2 linked regions of the Homo sapiens genome follow. The protein of the gene in region 1 purifies or fractionates together with the protein of each later gene. This does not show direct contact. Each region holds a gene or a part of one and is shown on either strand. Other genes may lie near its edges.

The links. Proteins that work in one complex are often made in the same cells at the same time.
Region 2: the proteins of CCNYL1 (region 1) and SPPL2B purify together in Homo sapiens (affinity purification with mass spectrometry; 2 studies listed by BioGRID and IntAct, with this or other methods). This does not show direct contact.

The regions. Positions count from the first base shown.
Region 1 is NC_000002.12:207,753,140-207,756,639, reverse strand, and holds the end of CCNYL1 (cyclin-Y-like protein 1), read right to left. Parts: intron 3,053-3,500; coding exon 2,942-3,052; 3' UTR 466-2,941; downstream 1-465. UniProt on the Homo sapiens protein: Key regulator of Wnt signaling implicated in various biological processes including male fertility, embryonic neurogenesis and cortex development. Activates the cyclin-dependent kinase CDK16, and promotes sperm maturation.
Region 2 is NC_000019.10:2,331,684-2,335,183, reverse strand, and holds part of SPPL2B (signal peptide peptidase-like 2B isoform 2 precursor), read right to left. Parts: intron 583-3,500; coding exon 463-582; intron 1-462. UniProt on the Homo sapiens protein: Intramembrane-cleaving aspartic protease (I-CLiP) that cleaves type II membrane signal peptides in the hydrophobic plane of the membrane. Functions in ITM2B and TNF processing.

The sequences.
Region 1 (3,500 bases):
CACATTAAAGTCAAATTATGTGGCTTAAGACATCCTCTCAACAGCAACACAAATTCTAGTTCCTGTCTTTCCATTCTCTTTCCTGTTTGTCTGAAAACCTCAAATACCTCTTGTTCTAATTCTACGCTATTCCTTTAATTCCTTTCTCTTTGATACATTTTGCTTAATTTTATATTCTAATGTGCTTTTCCCTCTCAGACACGATAACCAACTATTCAAGATGCCATCTAATGCACTATGCCATTAAGTATTGTGGTCAGTGATTTTAAGTGTAATAAATTATCTTCAGGTTGAAAAGAGCATATGCAAAAGAAATGGATCACTACATCTTAACTAGAGGCATGGATCAAATCAACTTATGGTTGGTTTGAAAATGCTTTAAGACATATCAGGATTGACTTAAAACTAGGCTGGGCAGAGATGTAACACTATGTGGATAGAAGTGTTACAAACACACTAGCCATATTTTAATTAAAATAGAGTTTATTAGCTTTTAATATAAACATGAGAAATAAAAACCACATAAATTGTAGCATTCTTTTCAAAATAAAACTGCAATCAATACTTGAATCTCCAAACTCTGAATTCCATAAACAATATTTGTTTTTTTGAGGTGGTAGATTGTAATATTTGTATACCATTATTTATCATTTATGTCTCTGTCCTTTAAAAATGATGGAAACTGCAGCACAATATGATGTGAAGCATTGCTATAATAGAGGAAGTACTCCTGTCCCAGAAATGCTTTGTTTATAAGCAAGATTCCTAGGATTAGATTTGAGAAAGTAGGAGAAACAGATTTCACATAGTTGAGAACACTAACCTCTTCTTAGTATTTCAAATTTAGGTGACATTATCGGTCTCCTAAAATTATTTGCTCCTTGCCTTTTAAAGCCTGAAGAGTTCCTAAGGGTTATGTAAGTATTTCTTAAATAGCAGGACTTAATGGGACACCTACAGCTTGGTAGCATGTAGGATGATAAAACAGCTGTTCATATCACCTTCTATAATTAGGGTCCAATTCCTTTTATTACATGTTAATTAACACTGCTCTTCAAAATCTTCCTTTAAAGAAACTGCGGTAATCAAAGCATATAGAGCACAGCTCTGCGGGTAACTACTTTTAAAAAGAGGGCATTTTATGGAGATACAAGGTATTCCAAAAGTTCAGTGTAATTTTAAGCTTTGATACTTGTAGAAATATAAATGCTACAAACCTTTACAAAACCTTGTCTGAACATTTTTCTTCTGCTTTTTTCTTTGAGACAGGGTCTGGATGTCGCCCAGGTTGGAGAGCAGTGACATGATCATGGCCCACTGCAGCCTTGACCTCCTGGGCTCTACTGATCCTCCCACCTTAGCCTCCAGAGTGGCTGGGACTACAGACACATGCCACCATATCCAACTATTTTTATTATTTTTTTTTACAGGCAGGGTCTCACTATGTTGCCTAGACTGGTCTTGAACTCCTGCACTCAAGCAATCCTTCCACCTCAGCCTCCCAGGGTACTGAGATTACAGGCATGAATCACTATGCCCAGCCCATTTCTTTTGCATTTAATTTTGCATTTTTCTAAGAGATGGGGTCTTGATAACGTTGTCCAGGTTGGAGTGTAGTAGCTATTCCTATAGGCACCATCATGGTACACTGCAGCCTCCAATACTTGACCTCAAGCAATCCTCCAGCCTCAGCCTCCCAAGTAGCTGGGACTATAGGCGTGCACCACCACACCCAGCTTCATTTTGCAAATTTTGAATATAAAGCTTTTAATTTTTTGTTTCAGTCAATGTCTGCTATCAAGAGTGACCGAAACAAAAAATTAAAAGCTTAATATTCAGGAGACAGGTGCCAGTTGCACTTGTAGTCCCAGCTACTTGTGTGGCTGAGGCTAGAGGATGGCTTGAGACCAGGAAGTTCTAGGCTGCAGTGAGTGCACAATGATTGCACCTGTGAAAAGCCACTGCACTCCAGCCTGGACAACGCAGTAAGACCCCCATCTCTTTAAAAACAAACAAAACAAAACAAAAAACTTTCAAATCATGTTTTTTAAAGGTTTATAGCATTTATACTCATGCTGCAGTGCCTTGGAGGGCCCAAACTATATTCAAGCTTAAAACTGCTTCACTTTTTCTCATCGTCACTGAACCACCATGTTGGTTGGCATTATGAAAATATCTTTTAATACATTTATTTAGCAAGAGAAAAATTATCAGAAAATGAGAAGCACCATTTATAGTTCACAAGAAATGCAACATGGACTCCAATAGAAGTAGATATCAATAACTGATACTTCCTCTGTTTATGACCCCAAACATGCTAAAATGCTAAAGTAATGCTTGCAAAGAATATGAATGACAAATGTTATCCAGCAGCTTTTTGGTTTAAAATGATTGCCAATGACTAGCAGCTTCAATGGTAACAGTAGGGAGGAAGAACCCTTCAGTACCTAACAACGCTGCTGTCTGCTCCTAAGTGGCTTTAGTTAGAGTCCCATGTTTTAATGGTAATACTGCATTGATTTTAAAGGCATATGCAGCAAAATGCGGGGGGAGGGAGAGAAACTGGAAGAAACATAAAAGTTATATGGTTAGTGTCTTTAAAGTCTAAAAATTTAAACTATTGTTTAAAAAACCTTACATAGTTCACAGCTATCGGCCCACACAGTAAGCAAATATCTGTGTGTAGGATGGGAGCCTTCACTTTGGAGTGGTTTTTGTAACTCTGTTTACATTAAAAAGGACAGAAGAGTGTTTTGTTGCATTGACAAGGTCCCATTCTTTCCTGTGGAGTATAATCCTTGTTGTCCATGAGTCTCTTGAATTTGAGATCTTTCCTTTTGATGAAAACACTAATTTTGCTGGTTTTTGAGCAGGAAAGGTGGTATTTCTCCAGTCTTTGTAGATGAAGGTCCCATGACGTTATAACCCCTCATTTCTCCTTTTAAGAGAGGATGGCTTTAGAGCGCTGAATACCAATGAAGTTATCAGCACTGAAAGACCTTCTCATAGCGGCTCTACACAAGTCTTTGTCTTCACACAATCTAGAAATAGCCTAGGAAAGTCAATCAAATAGAAAACAGGTACAATTTTAAAAAGGGTTCCCGCCTTTGAAAGAGCACCATTGTGAAAGCCACACATGTGGACTCCTTTAGATAGTTCACAGTTACAGCTACTTTGGCTGAGTTTTACACTGCCAGGTTGTGGGGACACTACTTCCTGACAGTTCACCAAGGTAATATCCTTTAAGGGCTATGGTTAGATTCCCAGAGAACAAAGGGGAATTTATTATATTATTAAAAAACTGGATTCCCAAAGATATCAAAGGTATTGTGATAGGGCTCCTAACAGCAATAGCATCTGTTATCTGTTAACTTATTCCTTAAATATAACAAACGTACACTTGTGCAAAAAAATGTTTATTCAGCTATTCAAATTCTACCCAATCCTTATTAGCTATTATATACTCAAAGCACATTTTAATGAGGCAGGTGTGTGCTGGA
Region 2 (3,500 bases), on another chromosome or scaffold:
AAGGAGGCGGGGCATGAGGACTAAGTGGGAAAGGAGGTGGGGCCTCTGAGGGAGGGACTCATCCAGCAGCAGGTGTTAGTGCCCCAGTCAGGAAGACGGTGAAAGGAACAGGTCTCGTCCCTGGGGCCCCACTGTGCCCTCTGCTGTTACTCCTCTGAGGACCCCTCTGTCTGGGCCCACTGGATAGGGTCCCCGGCATGGAGCAGTAGAGACCCTTATCTACCACATGGAGCTCGGCCGGTGCCTCTGGATCTGCACCCCAAGGCCGCATGGACAGCTTGCATTGATGACCAGGGTTGGGGAGGCCCAGGGGAACTGGGGGCCAGCTAAGAGTCCCCCAGACCTGGTCAGGGCCTGCCTCTCGCCTCTGGATCTTTCCTGCAACCCCAGCCGGATGTGTCTCTAGAGCCCCGGGGCCCCCGCATTCTCCTCCGCAGCGGCGCCCGGCCAGCGGGTACTCACTGCCTTGCTGAGGTCGTGCGGAAGATGGGCCCACTGCGGGTTGTAGAGGATGCAGTAGTCTTTGCCTTCGGGGCCCCCGGCCTGGGAGACCACGTGCACCATGCCGTACTCACAGGCCACCTGCAGGACAAGGCCAGCAGTCAGAGCCACAGCACGGGACGTGCGGGGCTGCACCGCCCCACGAGAAACAGGCCCGAGGAGGGGAGGACGCCTCCAGGAAGGGCGCCCATGTTCACCAGGTGGTCTGGGATGCTTCCCCCTCTCGACAGGACAGACAGGGACGTGACCATACGTGGTTTACAGCAAAGACCCAGACTGGCTCACCTTCCTCAGGGAGCCCCAGGCTGGTGACCATGAGTGTGTCAGGTCACCCCTTTGTGGCTCCCGAGTTTCTGCACCAAAAAACAGGGATCGCACCACCTCCTGGGCCTCCCAGGATCAGTGGGCACGGTGGGAGAATGACAGCCACGGGCAGAGCCACGGGCAGAGCCCTGAGCAGGGAAGCAGGGCAGGGCCCCAGCGGACCTGGCCCCCAGCCTGGGCGGGAGGCCTGGACAAGCAAGCCTCTGCACCCCTCAGGTCTGGGTGGCCTTTGACCCACAGCCCCGTGGGCACTGCTTGTTGGCTGGTGCTCCAAGGCACACGGGGGCCCAGGCACACGGTGGGGCCCAGACGAGGGGGATCCCCAGATCAGCACCCCTCAGCTCCCACTGGTAGAACAGCAGGAAGCAGGTGGGCCAAGGGGCCTACGGGCACCGGGTCCTGAGTGGGACAGGCTGAGGTTTGCAACAGGTCACGCTGCCACCAGCAGGACAGACAGCGTCATGTTCCCCATGAAGCCCCAAAGCAGCAGAGTCCAGCACAGCAGCTCCCACTTCGCAGGAGGGAGAAGGAACAGCCAGCCAGGGCTTCAAGTTCCTGCTCTCCAGCCTGCAGCAGCAGCAGCTCAGAGAAGGCCACAGGGAGAAGGCCCGGATCCACGGGCAGGAGCCCCTGACACACAACGGGGACAACAGGCCAAAGCCAGCCAAGAGAAGCAGGGGTGGTGGCCACCGCGCCCAGGACAGAACGGGCTGGGGCCCTTGCCACGCTCTCAAAATGAAGTAGGGGGCAGGACCAGGCCCCAAAGCCCTGGACGCCTCCCAGGAGGGCTGCGGAGTAGACGGGCCTGGACCAGAAGGGACGACCCCCACCTCTTCAATTTAATGCTTAACAGAGCAGGATGGAGCTATGAGGAAAGACGGATTCCACAAGCAGGAAGCTGGCACTGCTCACCACGCCTCCCACCGCAGGGACCACGGCGGACACTGCAGGGCTCTGGCCTAGGCAGAACCACGGTCCTCCCAGCAGAGCCCAGTCCAGCCGCCCGCACCTGCCATCCCCACCTTCCTCCTGCTCCCGCAAAGCCCAGTCCAGCCTCCCGCACCTGCCGTCCCCACCTCCTCCTGCTCCCCTCCCAGCAGAGCCCAGTCCAGCTGCCCGCACCTGCCATCCCCACCCTCCTCCTGCTCCCCTCCCAGCAGAGTCTAGTCCAGCCGCCCGCACCTGCCATCCCCACCCTCCTCCTGCTCCCCCTCCCAGCAGAGCCCAGTCCAGCCGCCTGCACCTGCCATCCCCACCCTCCTCCTGCTCCCCTCCCAGCAGAGTCTAGTCCAGCCGCCCACACCTGCCATCCCCACCCTCCTCCTGCTCCCCCTCCCAGCAGAGCCCAGTCCAGCCGCCCGCACCTGCCATCCCCACCCTCCTCCTGCTCCCCCTCCCAGCAGAGCCCAGTCCAGCCGCCCGCACCTGCCATCCCCACCTTCCTTCTGCTCCCCTGCCCAGGGCCCCCACCCAGCAGCTGACAAAGACATCTCCATCTCGCCAGGATGCCAGTCACCAGAGGGTCTCACAGCGATGGGGCCCAGGTCCCAGCTGCTGTGCCACACTGCAGACCCTCAGTGTGGGCCCCCAGGGGAGCCCGGCCTGCACAGGGAGGAGGGGTCCCAGAAGAAAAACCACGTGCCAGGGACCAAGGAGACCCACCCCATGCCCTAGGCCTGCCCGTTCTCAGGAGCACCCAGCCCTCAGCCTTCTGGGGCTGCAGGGCTCCTGCCAGGCTGTAAACCTCCCAGACAGAGAGACAGCCGCACCCCCTGGTCCCCAGGGGACCTGTCACGGAAACAAACAGGCCACAGCCATTTGCCTCATCAGGAACAGGATGGCAGCCACATGTCTGAACGGATGCTGAGCTGCGCACCAAACGGGCCGACACCACAACGCCACAAGGGAAAACAGTGCAGACGCAGCTCTGCCAAGCTAGGACTGGGGAAGGACAGCTCTGGCTTGGCTAAAGGTCCCAAAGGTCCCTGGTGCCAGACACCAACCCCAGCACACAGGCACAGACGGGCTCTCCAACAGCCGGGCCCTCATCACTGAAATCATGCAAAGTCTCCGGCCTGGTCTGGGAGCATCTGGGTCAAGGCCCTGGTGACCTCGGGGTGGCAGCATGGTGAAAGCCCACGGAGCCCCGGTCCCCACAATCGACTGGGGGTCTCATAGCTCTTGGCTAATGCTGCTTCCTTCCCACAGCTGCCCCAGCCCCACTCCAAGCACCTCCCATGTGACCTCCCCCAGAGCCCAGGCAGAGTCAGGAGCCCTTTCTTTCCAGTTCTGCCCACCAGACTGCCTGCCCGTGAGAGCACCCCTTAGTCTGGCCCCGGTGCCGAGCCCGGAGGGTGCCCCTTCCAACACAGCCCCCCAGAACCCCTCCTCCAGGAGGGATGTTATGGGTCACGGCAGAGGCCAAGAATCCACAGTCCGGCCCACCTTCTGTGTTTGTAAATAAAGTTTTATTGGAACACAGCCAAGCCCATTCCTAAGGAAGGGTCTCCGGCTCTGGAAGAACAACAGGAGAAACCAAGCAACCAAACCAGAGGCCACGTGGGCCACAGAGCCCAGCAAAACTACTGTCTAGCCCTTCCCAGAAAACACTTGCCAAGCTCTGTTCTATGGGATCAGGGACTCTGGTGAAAAGTGTCTTTTGTGTAAAATGGGAA